4 linked regions of the Homo sapiens genome follow. The protein of the gene in region 1 purifies or fractionates together with the protein of each later gene. This does not show direct contact. Each region holds a gene or a part of one and is shown in the gene's direction. Other genes may lie near its edges.

Evidence for each region. The genes of interacting proteins can lie anywhere in the genome.
Region 2: the proteins of BASP1 (region 1) and GPC1 purify together in Homo sapiens (co-immunoprecipitation; one large-scale study listed by IntAct). This does not show direct contact.
Region 3: the proteins of BASP1 (region 1) and NUCKS1 fractionate together in Homo sapiens (co-fractionation; one large-scale study listed by BioGRID). This does not show direct contact.
Region 4: the proteins of BASP1 (region 1) and TPD52L1 fractionate together in Homo sapiens (co-fractionation; one large-scale study listed by BioGRID). This does not show direct contact.

The regions. Positions count from the first base shown.
Region 1 is NC_000005.10:17,224,131-17,227,630, forward strand, and holds part of BASP1 (brain acid soluble protein 1), read left to right. Parts: intron 1-3,500.
Region 2 is NC_000002.12:240,463,163-240,466,662, forward strand, and holds part of GPC1 (glypican-1 precursor), read left to right. Parts: intron 1-184; coding exon 185-350; intron 351-1,453; coding exon 1,454-1,584; intron 1,585-1,693; coding exon 1,694-1,813; intron 1,814-1,914; coding exon 1,915-2,048; intron 2,049-2,310; coding exon 2,311-2,486; intron 2,487-2,895; coding exon 2,896-3,128; 3' UTR 3,129-3,500. UniProt on the Homo sapiens protein: Cell surface proteoglycan that bears heparan sulfate. Binds, via the heparan sulfate side chains, alpha-4 (V) collagen and participates in Schwann cell myelination.
Region 3 is NC_000001.11:205,747,383-205,751,663, reverse strand, and holds the start of NUCKS1 (nuclear ubiquitous casein and cyclin-dependent kinase substrate 1), read left to right. Parts: upstream 1-1,481; 5' UTR 1,482-1,690; coding exon 1,691-1,707; intron 1,708-4,281.
Region 4 is NC_000006.12:125,251,273-125,254,772, forward strand, and holds part of TPD52L1 (tumor protein D53), read left to right. Parts: intron 1-749; coding exon of another isoform or gene 750-768; exon of another isoform or gene 769-1,337; intron 1,338-2,444; coding exon 2,445-2,483; intron 2,484-3,500.

The DNA.
Region 1 (3,500 bases):
GACATTTACTTCAGGGATATGCCCAAGGATTTGCTTTTGTCCTTCTGGACACTTTGTTGTTGAGCAAAGGTGAATTCACTCTCATTTTGGGTAAATTGTTGTTTAACAGCTTCCTTAAACAGGTTTTTGTATCTTACGGATTCTGGAGGGAAGTCATATATTTTACTCTATCTGTCAGGTGTTCACTGTAAGGAAGGGGATTTTAGATATAGTGGTTATGTCTTTTAAAAAGTTTCCTAGGATTTCAATCCGTGTAGATGGAGCTACACTGTACTTCTCCTAAGCCTTGGCCATTTTATCTTAGGTAATATGGACTCTTCAGGGGGGGAAAAAAGGGGAAGGGGGGCTCTTGAATAAAATGGGTAGCCTTTTCACATATTGACATCTTCAGTATTAATTTAGAGAGAGCGATACTAACTTCTTCAATGAAAAATTATTTATGGAAGAGATCCAGTGTATACTTCTAATATTTCATCAGTATTACGTTAAATTGCTTGTAGATTAGAGGTGCTTCTTGTCATAGTGAATGGAGACTAATACCTTAAGTCATTCCTTTCTAGTATGATGATTGTGGTTGCTCTTACTGAGGACTATAAATGTGGATTTGGTTGATACTTTCACGTTTCTCCTTGGACATTGCAGATGGAAGTCATAACCCCAAATGTCTTACTTATCTGCAATTTTGCTCTGAGATATGGACCAGGCTCTAGCAGACCGTCTGCCACTGTGTAGTTAGTGTTGCCTGATTAGAAATAAACCAAGTCCTGCCTAAATTGGTCAATCTGTTTTGTTCCGCGTCCACGCAGGATCCACTTACAGAAAGCCAGTGGCTGCTTTTAACCACTATCGAAACCTCAGTCCTTTGTAAGTACTTTCCTTGGAGCAGAAGGTTTAAAAGCTCATGACTAAACACTCATTTTGGAACTCAAAATAATCTTAGAGAAGTTAGTGGGTTGCTCAGAGTCCCACGAGCTGCTTATGGGCTGCGTGGAAACCCAGGTTATTTCCCCATAAAGCCTCACTCCTGCTGCCCCTCTCTTCTGAGAGAGAAGCAGAGAATGTCTAATTGAGTCACTCTTACTCACTGTCTGCAACGTAAAACTTTTTTTTCTACCATTTTTTTTTGTACCCTAGAACCATTAAAAAAAAAACCAGTCTGGATCCTATATCCGTCTCATGATCTCCCCCAGAGGAGACCTCTTCGGCCTTTTAATACACCACACATGCCCCAGGGGGACGGTGCAGTCACTACCTGCTGCCACTTCATCCACAGGCCATCTTCCCCTCAACTTACTCCTTTCTGCTTCTTACATTATGTGCACGTGGTTTCCTTTATATGCCAAAAAGTATATGGCATGCACTGAAATAACTTTCTTCATAAAACTAAACTTTAGTTTTTCTAAAATTTAAGTTAAATCCTTGTTTTTCTCCCAAAATGCACAGTGGTTGGGGGCTGGGAAGCTGGCGATGGTGGGTATGTGTTTGAAAAGAACGCCAGCTGGCTTTAGACTTATTTGGGGGCTATAGAGCAAGCGGAGCAGTCAGGCATCCCACCCACCCCTGAAATGCTCGGGGCCCTCTTGGCAGATCCAGTGTGCACGTTGTCGTGGCAGGTGGTGGATGGAGAGCTTTTATGCCGATTTCTAGCGTTATCTGGCTTATTGGTTTGAGAGCTGCATACAACGGGATGTTTAATCTTTTTTATTTAAAATTACCATTTATAGTATTTGGGGTGATTTAGAGGATTTAAAAAATCTGTTAGATTCTGAAGTAGTCCTTAAAATATGGAACATAAGTGCTTAAGATGCTAAAACACTTTCTAAAGCATACTATTGGGATGTTTGAAACTGATGTTGGTAAATGTAAACTGTGTGCATTTGTGTTTGGATAATCTGTGATAAGTTTAGTTTTTGATGAGACACAATTTTAATTTCACATTTAAAATGACATATTGAGGTCAATAAGAGCAGGTTTGAATTTACATTTTCCAGAGAAACCCACAATTAATAGGTAACTTTTATTTTCATAATGCTTTTAATTATTACACTTACGTAGATTCAGAAATGGATATATTCCTAAAATAAACCAAAATTAAAACTTCTTTGTCTTTTTAAAGAAAAGCTGTGGTTCTATTAGAGAAAAATACTTCTTTTTTAAGTTTATGAAGAAATAGCTGTTAGATAAAAACTTTTCCTGGTTGAGCTTTCTAAATTACAAATTTCCTGAATTGCATGGCAAAGTGACTTTGAAAAGACCCACTTCATTTTTCCTTTGACAGTCTATTCAAAACACCATTACCACGTAGACTAATACAATAACCAAGGTAAATAGTAACAAGATCTAATGGGGGAAATAGTGTATCAAAAGGGGGAAAACAGTATCCACTGACAGAGAGAACTAGCTGTTTCTTAAAGAGACAGAGAAGAAAGGTTTCCTCGGAGTTATTGGGTCTTCATAGGATGGTCTCCTGTCCTTCTCTGAGCTTGCCTTGGAAACTGTAGAGGCTGTAGGAATATTTGCTGTCTTTAACCCTTACTAATGTTCTCAGCTATTTCATTAGAGGATCACAGTGTCTGTATTTGCCTTAGGTGTAAGATGATTGGAGAAAAGGAAAATGTAGAGAAATCAGATTGACTTTAGATGGACAGGCAGAGAGTTCTGGAGTGACTTCCCACTCCTTAATTCTGCAATGCACCCAGAAGGCAGGGTGAGGTTAGATGATCACCTGGGTATTTACTATAGCCATTATTACTGTGATTAGATAAAGTGTCCTGGAATCTTCTCTGAATAACTCATTTTTCTTTTTTTTTTTTTTCTTTTTTTCGTTTTGCTCTGTCGCCCAGGCTGGAGTGCAGTGGCGCAATCTCAGCTCACTGCAACCTCAGCCTCCTGGGTTCAAGCGATTCTCCTGCCTCAGCCTCCCGAGTAGCTGGGATTACTGGCACCCGCCACCATGCCCAGCTAATTTTTTCGTATTTTTAGTAGAGACAAGGTTTCACCATGTTGGTCAGGCTGGTCTTGAACTCCTGACTTCGTGATCCACCTGTCTTGGCCTCCCAAAGTGCTAGGATTACAGGTGTGAGCCACCGCACCCGTCCTTTTTTCTTTTTAGACAGTCTCACTCTGTCGCCCAGGCTGGAGTGCAGTGGCGCAATTTCTGCTCACCACAACCTCTGCCTCCTGGGTTCAAGCAATTCTCGTGCCTCAGCCTCCCTAGTAGCTGGGACTACAGGTGTACGCCACCAAGCTTGACTAATTTTTATATATATATATATATACAATATTTTTTTTGACAGAGTCTCGCCGTGTCGCCCAGGCTGGAGTGCAGTGGCACGATCTCGGCTCACTGCAACCTCCGCCTCCCAGGTTCAAGCAATTCTTTTGCCCCAGCCTCCAAAGTAGCTGGGCCTACAGGTGCCGCCACTATGCCCGGCTAATTTTTTTGTATTTTTTAGTAGAGATGGGGTTTCACTATATTGGCCAGGCTGGTCACAAACTCC
Region 2 (3,500 bases), on another chromosome or scaffold:
AAATGAGGGCCGTCTGGGCTGGCAGGCCCTGCGAGTCAGGCAGCGACCACCACGAGCTGGGGCAGAGCAGAGGCCTCCCCTGACTTCCCTCCAGAGCCCCCTACCCTGGGGCTTCGTTAGGGGCTGGCCGGGGCCAGGCACCCCCAGGGCCTCGGGGCCTGGCTTAGGGTCCCTTGCTCCCCAGGTCCCCCTGGGCCCGGAGTGCTCGAGAGCTGTCATGAAGCTGGTCTACTGTGCTCACTGCCTGGGAGTCCCCGGCGCCAGGCCCTGCCCTGACTATTGCCGAAATGTGCTCAAGGGCTGCCTTGCCAACCAGGCCGACCTGGACGCCGAGTGGAGGAACCTCCTGGGTGAGCCCCCACCCGCGAGAGCGGCCTGGAACTGTCTTGGGGAGTGCACGACTGGGGGTCCTGGGGGGCGGGTGGTCCCTAGCTTAGAGCTTGGACCCAGGGACCTGATCAGGGATGCCCTGACCCGGGCCAGATCTGGGTGGTGCTGCAGGGTTGAGGGGCCAGGGTGCCTTTTGAATGTCCTGAGTGATGTGTGACTTGGGGCAGCTGCCAGGGAGGGAGCCCTGTGGGGTCATAGTTTCTTGTCCTTCCCCACTTAGCAAGCACCTCGGTGTGCATACATGCCAACACGTGTGACTCATCGAGGACCGGCACTTGTTTAAGCTAACACATACATGCACCGTCACATGACAGGCTGACACATGCGAACTGGCGTGCTCACTTGCTGACACACAGTGGGCCAGTGCCCACCAGTACAGCGTGTGCTCCTGGGCGCATGTGATGACATGAGCTGGGCTGACCCGCATCAATGCCAACACGTGTGTGGTAATATGTACATGCTTATCCAGATCCACTAACATGTACACATGCTTACATGAGGGGGGACAGCATGCATCTGTGCCAACACGTGCTAGCATGTGCTGACACGGGGCCAACAGGTGTGTGCTAACGTGATGGGAGCTGACAAAATGCATGAGCTTTACTTGTACATGTGCTCACCGTGCACGCAACACACACATGAACTAAGGTGTACATGGGGGGGGCATGAGGTAAGCCAGCATGCATACACACCAGCTCACACGGGCTCATGTGCACACAAGCTGGACCAAGGTGAGCCAGCGTATGTACATGTCAACACCTGCATGAGCCAGCGTGGACATACGAGACACGGCAGGCCAGCAAGCATGCAGAATGGCCTCTGTGTATGTGCGTGTTCACCTGTGCCCGTGGCACAGGTGCACACGTGGGTGTGGGCCAAGCTGAGTGCACGTGGCCTGCACATGTCACACGGGCCAACCTGAGTGCACACGTGGGATCTCCCATGCTGACCCGTGCTGTCAAGACTGCATTAACATGCACACGTGGTGACGCCTGCGTGTGCGTGTCAACGCCTGTGTGCGCGCGTTAACGCCTGTGTGTCCGCGTGTTAACGCCTGTCCTAGACTCCATGGTGCTCATCACCGACAAGTTCTGGGGTACATCGGGTGTGGAGAGTGTCATCGGCAGCGTGCACACGTGGCTGGCGGAGGCCATCAACGCCCTCCAGGACAACAGGGACACGCTCACGGCCAAGGTGCGGGCAGGAGGACGTGACGAGCACAGCGGGGTGGGGGTCCTGGATGTGGCCCCATTGGGCTTGAGGGGCCCCACTACCCCCCAAGGACCCTGCAGTGTCTCTCCAGGTCATCCAGGGCTGCGGGAACCCCAAGGTCAACCCCCAGGGCCCCGGGCCTGAGGAGAAGCGGCGCCGGGGCAAGCTGGCCCCGCGGGAGAGGCCACCTTCAGGCACGCTGGAGAAGCTGGTGAGTGGCCCCTGCGTGTCCACTGGACCAGGCATGAGGGAGGCAGACAGGCAGAGGCGGGCGGGCCCTGGCAGCCCAGTGGCCTGACTGCTGCCCCACAGGTCTCCGAAGCCAAGGCCCAGCTCCGCGACGTCCAGGACTTCTGGATCAGCCTCCCAGGGACACTGTGCAGTGAGAAGATGGCCCTGAGCACTGCCAGTGATGACCGCTGCTGGAACGGGATGGCCAGAGGCCGGTAGGTGCCCACCTGGCTGGCACAGCCCTCCCTCCCATGCCGCCTCCATTGGGCTGTGCCTGGGCCAGGTGCTGTCTGCACGGGGCCACGTCCCTTGCTGGAGGGCTTGAGCCCCACTTCTCTGCGGCCTGTGTGGGCTCTGCTCGGTCCCTGGAAGCTGCTGGGCATCTCAGGCTCAGAGCGTGGGAGAGTGTCCTGCTCAGGTGATGGCCCTTTGCAGGGGCTGGAGCAGTGACCTGGGCTCTGCCTGCCTTTCCCCCAGGTACCTCCCCGAGGTCATGGGTGACGGCCTGGCCAACCAGATCAACAACCCCGAGGTGGAGGTGGACATCACCAAGCCGGACATGACCATCCGGCAGCAGATCATGCAGCTGAAGATCATGACCAACCGGCTGCGCAGCGCCTACAACGGCAACGACGTGGACTTCCAGGACGCCAGTGAGGGCAGGGCCTGGCCGGGCGGCCAAGGGGCCAGGGTTGGTGGGGGTGCCACAGGGGTGTGACTGCCCTCCGGGTTCCCCCACCCGAGGGGCCCTCTGCTCCGGCATCACCACAGTGAGTCTGAGGACGCTGTGCTGCCCAGGCACGATCACCGAGCCCTGCACCTCTGCGGCGCCCTGGAGGCCTGGCCGGGATGTCTGTTGGCTTTGGCTCCAGGGACCAAGGGAGGCAGCCCCAGGGAGTGAGAGTCTCCCAGCCTCAGGGGTCAGCGGGGATCAGGTGCTGCTGGTCCTGGGATTCCACACCGAAAGGATGTTGGGGTCACCTGGCACGGGCCCTTACAGGGTGGTGCTGCACTGGGGTCTCCTGTGGGGACCTGCCTGCCGGAGCCTCCTCTCCTTCCCAGGTGACGACGGCAGCGGCTCGGGCAGCGGTGATGGCTGTCTGGATGACCTCTGCAGCCGGAAGGTCAGCAGGAAGAGCTCCAGCTCCCGGACGCCCTTGACCCATGCCCTCCCAGGCCTGTCAGAGCAGGAAGGACAGAAGACCTCGGCTGCCAGCTGCCCCCAGCCCCCGACCTTCCTCCTGCCCCTCCTCCTCTTCCTGGCCCTTACAGTAGCCAGGCCCCGGTGGCGGTAACTGCCCCAAGGCCCCAGGGACAGAGGCCAAGGACTGACTTTGCCAAAAATACAACACAGACGATATTTAATTCACCTCAGCCTGGAGAGGCCTGGGGTGGGACAGGGAGGGCCGGCGGCTCTGAGCAGGGGCAGGCGCAGAGGTCCCAGCCCCAGGCCTGGCCTCGCCTGCCTTTCTGCCTTTTAATTTTGTATGAGGTCCTCAGGTCAGCTGGGAGCCAGTGTGCCCAAAAGCCATGTATTTCAGGGACCTCAGGGGCACCTCCGGCTGCCTAGCCCTCCCCCCAGCTCCCTGCACCGCCGCAGAAGCAGCCCCTCGAGGCCTACAGAGGAGGCCTCAAAGCAACCCGCTGGAGCCCACAGCGAGCCTGTG
Region 3 (4,281 bases), on another chromosome or scaffold:
TCTCTTCTTTTTGGGAAGCCAGATTTTACAAAGGGAGACTTTCAGGAGGCAGATGTGGTGTGTTTTTTGTTGTTGTTGTTTGGAAAGTGTATCTTCAATTGGTTGTTAACTGACTGCTCATTGGAGACTTCTGCCAGATGCGCCCAGATCATTAGTCCGTTTGAATCATCACGTCTTCCAGGCCCCACCCTACTCTCTGATAGGCCCCACCTTCACCGTGGGGTCCTGTTAGTCAAGATGCTCTGAGAGCGCACAGCCACCAAACAAAAATGATCGCTTTGACTGTGACAGGGATTGACGTCTATTTTCGATAGCAGACTCAGCCTTAGCCATTCACATAGGAATCCTGAGCTCTGCCTTTGAGAGTATTAGGCATCCAACAAATGCTCACGGATTTAAGTGAAATGATGTGCGTTACTTTCAGTTATATGACTTCGAAGAGTCTTTGTTTTGTTTTTCAAAGTGCAAGGGTAAATCAATAGAATTCATAGGGTCTTGAGCCAGCTCCACCCATCTCTACCCAGGGACGGAATCATCTTTTAAAACTTGGATTTAACACTTACGTAGCACTTACTGTGAGCCAGAGACTATCCTAAAGACTTTTGATAGATATATCAACTCATTTAATACTAATAAGCCTATGCAGTTAGGTACCCTTGTTTCCCATTTTACAGATGAGAAAACTGAGGCACAGAGAAGGAAAGTTATACCACCATTAAGTAGTGGACCTGGGATTCCACCTGAAATACCTTGTGGCCCCTGAGCTCATGCTCTTAGTTATTGTACACCTGACTCTTTTCTTAAAATAGTAATGCACCAGACTGGGACTTTAATGACCCTGAAGTGGATCTCAAGGTCCAGAATGGAGAATGGTAATTGGGGGTGAAGATATTCCTTGATTATGATCCTGCCTCTCTACTCCAGCAGCCTCATTTGGTCCCTGAGGGTTAATGCCGAAGCCAGGGTAAGGGGCTTGTAGGTTTAAGGTCAAATTTTTTGAACCTAAGGAATTTCCCTCCAATTCTGTAGCAGCCCCGCAGTGACGAATCTGCTGCCTCTCCCACGGGTTTTGCTATTAGAGGATTTTCAAGGTGATCAAGGCAGACGAGATGAAACACCATTAAACTAACACTGAGCAACGCTGAACCCTACATAAATCTTTTTTTCTAGTCTTTCTAAGATACGACCCCAGACGAATCTGCAACTCTGGAGTGGAAACCAGGGGGCGGGCTAAGCAGCGACCATTTTTGTTTTGCGGCCGTGCGCTCTCAGAGCATCTTGACTAACAGGACCCCCACGGTGAAGGTGGAGCCTATCAGAGAGCAGGGCGGGGCCTGGAAGACGTGATGATTCAAACGGACTAATGATCTGGGCGCATCTGGCAGAAGTCTCCAATGAGCAGGCGTGTTGGGGAGGAGCGCACAAACCCTAGTGGGTTTGGTTGCACGGCGGCTTTGGCGCATTTTCGGCTGGTTTGATTCATCCATTTTGAAGAGACGGGGGAGCGGGGGGCTCGTCTGTTCCAGGAGCCCTGAACCAAAGAGCAGCGGAGTTTGAGAAGCCAGCAGCTCGGGGTTCGGCAGCAGCGGTCCCATCGGCTGAAGTTCGGGGGGGGTGGGGCGCCGAGCGCGCGGGGTGGGGGGGGTCCTGGTCTTTGGCTTCTCGACTCGGTCCTGTTTCGACAGCGAACATGTCGCGGCCTGTCAGGTCAGTGCGGAGTCTGAGGCCTGGAGCGGGTTGGAGGGGGATGGGGGCGAGTGGTGAAAAGAGTGGGGGACAGAAGGCTAGAGTCCGCCATCCCCGGTGCCGCGCGCGGCCTCCTCCCTTTCGGGGCCCGCGCGCACCCTTGAGCGTGGGGGGCCCTGCTGGCGCGCGGGGGTGGTGGCTGCGCGCCCGTGCGCGCGCCCCTCCCCGCCCCGCGCCGCTGCAGGGCTCCGGTCTGCTCAGCTGCCTCCCCCACCCACCGCACTAGAGCGGGCGGGGTGTCCCTGAGCCGCCAGCGGCCGGAGGGGGAGGGGTGTGAAGTCAGCGCCCCCAAGAGGCCCCACCTCCTCGGGGCCGTCCCCTTGGAGCCAGCGCGGGGAGGCGGGCGGACTCGAGCTCCACTCCCCACCTTCAGCGAGGAGGGGCGGAGGCACCCGTATTGCCCCTTCCCCCAGCGACTGGCGCGGGGGTGGGGGCCCTGAGCCCTCTCTGTAGCGGACGGGGGTGTTCCTGGCAAAGGGGGAGGGGCAGCACTGCCAACCGGCCCCGCCTCTGTCCTTCGGGGTCGCTGCAGGCCCCGCCTCCCGGATCGGGCCGAGCGTGGGCGGGACCCGTTTTTTTCCCCCCGGGCAAAAGTGAGAGTTCGGGACTGGATCCTGGAAAATAATGGGCTGCTGCCTCTCTCCCCACCTCAGAGTTTTGAGAGAGTTAACCCCAAAGTTCGCTCTTTCTCTCCGACTAGAAATGTCCTTCCTCGGGGAAATGTCCGTACTCAGGGAGGTGCGGGTTAACAGCACGGCCCAAATCCCGTGTGGTTCTCGTTCCACTCTCACCCGCGTACGCGTCTCGGGATATTTTTGTAACCCTCTTGTCCCCGAGTGACTTTAGTAATAAAAGGGCTAGGTTCGGGTAACCATCAGACTTCATTCTCGGAATTTCAACAAGTTTGCTATTCCCCCAGCTGTCGGTGGAATCGTCCTATGCCATTCTCCAGGCTATTGTATGGAATGTGCCATTTATGGAGGGGTGTGGTTTAGTCCAATCTGTTGAGGCCTTAAAAAGGAGAGCTGTTGCAAATAAATATTTTTAATGTAAGGAATTGGCTTCTTTGCATAGTGTGTTTTCTAAATAAATAGATAAAGGCTTAGTTTTTAAATGTTTTAACAGTCGTTGCTTCCCCTTCATTCCAAGTTGTGTGGGAAACGGAAGTACCTTTAATTAGAGTTCTAAAGAGAGGTTTGGGACCCTGGCAAGGGTTTTGTTCTACACCGTTCTGTCTCCAGACTAGATCATCCTCCAACTGGTGGTGGTATGAGACTGCGTACTCCTACACACGGGGTGGGAATGAGGAGAAAGCTGCTGTTAGCTCTGTTTCAATCAGCATCTGTGGTAACTCACGATCTCTACTCTGAAAGTTATGCTGGCCTTTTGGCAAGGAGTCTGGATAGCTCTTTCAGAGTATAGTTTGCGTAATTTTTTTGGCATAAAACTTGACCAATGTATCCATCAACTCACGTAGAATATTTTCTTTAGGATCAGGTAAAATAATAAAATAAAGATTTATTTTACCTGGATTGGATCTTTTGTCTTCTGGAAGTAATTACTGTGTGGTCAAATTAGGTCAAATTAGGAAAAATAATTCCTCTACCTTTTAAATTTTAGTTCACTAAGTTTTGATGACTTTATTTTATTGTGGTGACGTTCTTATCTCATCTGCCTGAATTTGTTTTCCCAGATTTAGGTATTGGAACATGAACAGAACATTTTTACTGGAAAACTTGGATTTTTTATGTTACCATGTGGGGATATATATATTAAGCACATTCTATCAGTTTTTTGGAGGCATTGGGACTTCTGCACAACTTTTTTATTACTCAGTATGTTGTTTAAACTAATTTTGACCTTGTTTATTTCCCCTAATTGAAGAGTGAAGTTAATATGTTGTGGGCTGTTTTTTTTTTTCTTTGCCATTTTCAAATTATTAATTTCAGAGCAAGTTGGTTACGGAGTATATTTTAGTCATAAATTCTTTGTAATTATTTTTTAAAAGAAGTCTTTATTCATGACCAATAATAAAGCAGAAATAATTAAACTTGAGTTTGGTGGTTTGTTAAATTTTGCAATAAAAAAGTCCTGACTTAGGGAAATGATGTTGTTTCAAAGTATAATTGAAGAATCTATATTCCCTTAGTGCATTTAACATCAACGAAAAAAGTGATAGACATTGACCTGATTTCAGAATCATCAGCCTTGTTTTAAAAACAAAAAAGCACAAGTTGGAAAATATTGTCACTGTGTCGTCTTTTGGGGTATTTCTGCCCTTAGGCCTGTGTATAATTTTGCAGTTTTTCTGGTTCTCATTGTACCATAAATATCCATTTTTATTTTAATATGAACCTAAACATTTTAAGAGCATTTGGAAATGTACCTATGGCACCTTAGCATCAATTTCCAAATGAAGGGTGGTATGGTGGACCTATTGGCTACTGCATGGTTTTGCAAAGACCTGTGTCTAGCACGTTATGTTTAACTTTGTTCATACAAGATTGCTGTCTTTACCCTTTGCAGTGGCCGACT
Region 4 (3,500 bases), on another chromosome or scaffold:
TATTAGTTACACTATAACATTTTTGTGCATTCTGGTAACAAATTTCTGAATGTATTCAAAAACATTACCAGCAAAATTCAGATAGCTTGGAAGAACAACAGTACCTCTCAGTTTTTCTTTAAAATAACTCCAAATTAATATTTACAGATTTTGTAAAACCTAGAATTTGGGCCTTTTAATAGCTGAAAAAAAAGCTTTATGTTAAGATTTAATTTGTATGTTTTGTAAAAATAAGTTATATTTTTCTGAGCTAAGTAAGATTCTCATTTTAACCTGATTGTCATGGAATTGCCCACTCTCTTTCTCCATCCATAAAATAACATTGTTAATACCCACTTAACCAAAATATTTCCTGTGAAGTTAAAATGAGGTCACACTTAGGAAAGTACTCAGAAGAAATCCAAGCGGTTGGAATCATTTTTCTAATAACATTGGCATCTTCTGGGAACTTCTCAGTTAATTTGTTCAAACTGATCCACTGGGGACAAAATGTTTGGAGAAGGCATGTCATTTTATTACAGTCCAATCATTGTTATATACTTATAGGAATAACAGAAGCAAAACTTGAGTTGGTAAAATGATTTGTCAGAGACATTAAAAAGTCAGTGTAATCAAGAGTGGTAAATGAAGCTACCCTGTCTGTGCTCTGGGGCCCTTGAAAGGGGACCACCAAGGGCAGTGCAGTGTTTCTCTGCCTCCTGTTTGCTAACTCTGCTCCTGCTCTTCTCTCCTGTGCTTCCGGGCTGCAGGTCTCACTCCATCGGGTAAGCGCCACAGGGCTGCGTGTGGGGCTTTCCCCACTCCCTTGCTGCCCCTTTGCTTTCCAGGGCTCCCTGTTTCTTTCACACTGTGCCTGAACCAACAAAACTACACTCTGTTTTCCAGACAGTTCCCGTGACCAGGAAGATAGTTTATAGGGCACTTAATACATTTGAACTTATTGAAGTACATCTCTATCTCATTTCTGAATCATTTACACCATTTCACTTGCTGAGCTCTCTCTCAGGAGTCTCTTTCTCTGCACCATTTCTTCCGGTGTTGACAGAGCTTCTTAGAATTGAAAAGAAGAAGAAAAAAAAACAAAGTGGAGATTGAAAGTTATATATGTTTTCTGAAACTTCTAGAAAGTAAAGTTGAGAAACAAAAACAGATTTTCTCTAGATTGTCATGTTTCTCTGAATTTCTTGTACCCATAATTTGTGTTGATGTTTCACCTTCAACTTTCTGTGCCTTCTGAAGTTGAAGGGAAGAAAGGTACCGGAAAAGCACGTACGTATGTTAAGAAGTTTGTGATTTTTAATCCCAAGCCCCCGAATTAAAACTTCTTTTAGCCGGAATCTTATTATATACTTTTATTTTTTTAATTTTTTCCTAAGAAAGCGGTCTATATTTACAGAGATACACCAATTGGTAATGCAGATGAGGCTCTTTTAGTGATGCTTTTGAAGTGTAATTTCTGAGGAAATATCTGCCTAATAGTTTCTAAATCAAGTGTCTAGGGTAAGACCGTAAGTATCCCATGAATTTGTTTGTCCTTTTCTTTCTGTGTTCTAGCAAAGTGCTACCCATACTAATGCCCTCAGTGGATATTATGAGGGAAGGGTGACAGATTTGGTCCCTGAACTATTAGCTCCTTGAGAGAAGAGAAAGCAGGGACGCTGTTGAAAAGTGTGAGGTGGGAGCAAGCACTAGGCCAGGAAAATGGACCCATTGTGCTCCTCCCCATGCCCAGCCTGATTTCTGAGTGGAACTCAATAGAAAGTAACAGGCAACCAACCAGAGGGAAGATGAATCAGCTACTAGGATTAATGGGATGAGAAGTTTAAATCTCTTAAAATTCTCAGGAATGTTTGTGTTTGTACCAGATGTTCTTGACAGTCATCTAGTACAAATCAATCATCTTGACAATCAAACCAGAATGGATGCAGAAGTCCCTATGGCCTATGAGAACTGTGTTTGCCTGGCATGTGCTTCCTTGAAAGTCTTATGTTAACTTCTTGCTTTCCTCTGGCCAGTTTCTCTACCATGGAATGATTAGCTTCTACCTGCCTGGCTCTATTTCCTGGATACTGCCTTTTGCTCCTTACTGTTTTCCTGAGCAGAAGGGAGTAGAGACCTAAGTTGGGCCTGGAGAAGATGCCCATGGGCTACTGGGCTCACCTGGGAGAAACCAGACATTCTCAGATTTCCTGGCAAAAGGAGGCTGCAGAAAGTAAAATAATATGCAACCACGGATCCACCATCTACTTTTCATTTATACCCTTGAAAGCTGACTATACCCATTATACCCAACAAAAACAAATGTCATCTTGGTTAGATGGGCAGGGAATATTTCAGATATTTGGAATTGCTGTTTTAGAACTACGAATAGGGAGTTTTTCATGTACTTATGTGTGCTCTCTTCTTTTTTCTTTTTTCCCCTTTAATCTGCTTTTGCTCTGAAGTTACTCCATTCGCCATTCCATAAGTATGCCTGCTATGAGGTAATGTGTGTAAAATATTTTATGTAATATTAATATGAAATGTGTTTAAGGTGTTATTTTATTTATATTTACTTATGGGGTTCCTCTGCTTTATGTGAAAGGAAATTGCTGATGGTCTTCAAAAGAAAAGGCTGACAATTCTGTGGAAGAATTGCGTAGCTTGGGCTTTTGACCAGACATCCTGGCTTAAATCTAGTCTTTCCTGTGTGATCCAAGACAAGTGACTTAACCTCAATTCTTTTATCCATATATTGCAAGAAATAAGACCTACTTCATATGGTGTTTGTGAGGCATAAACAAAGGAACCTACATAAAGCATTTAGCACAGTGTCTGAACATGCCAAGCAATCTTGCAAAGGTAAACTTGGGTTTCTTATTTCCGCAGAATTAAATGCTAGCCTGGGGGCAAGTTTAAATGCAAGGCTAAAGTTCTAGAGAGGATATCATTAGGATTTTTAAGGTGGATATTAAGGTGAGATGTTTGTTAAATAATAAAATGTCAGTATAATTACTGACCAGATAAAAACTGGTGAGAAAGACATTCTTAACTTCAAGTTTGCATGGCATAGTGATGCAATCAGATAAAATTAAACTAATAGCAAGACAGGAATGAGTGTTAAATTGAAAATCAGAAAATGCAGGCTCTAGCCCAGCTCTGCCAAGGATTAACTTTGCACTCTTGGGAAAATCACCTCAATGGTATCAGCTTCATCATATTTAAAATAAGAGGCTAGAACCAGATTAGCTGCTTGTCAAAGATGCCCCTCCACCCACCGAGCCCTAAGGCTGCCTAGAGATGAAGCCTTTGGGATCTTCCCCCACTTCAGTCAGAGCTATGCCTCTTCTACCTGCTTTATATTGATGTTGTTGTTTGAAGGCATTATAGAAGGAGTTTAGTTACTTTCAATAGTTTGAGACCGCCGAAGCCAAATTCTTCATATATATAATCTTTTCCTCTGTTTTTTAACTGTCATGAAGAGAAATTCTTCCTAGGGTCATTTGCAGTGCTAAAAAAGT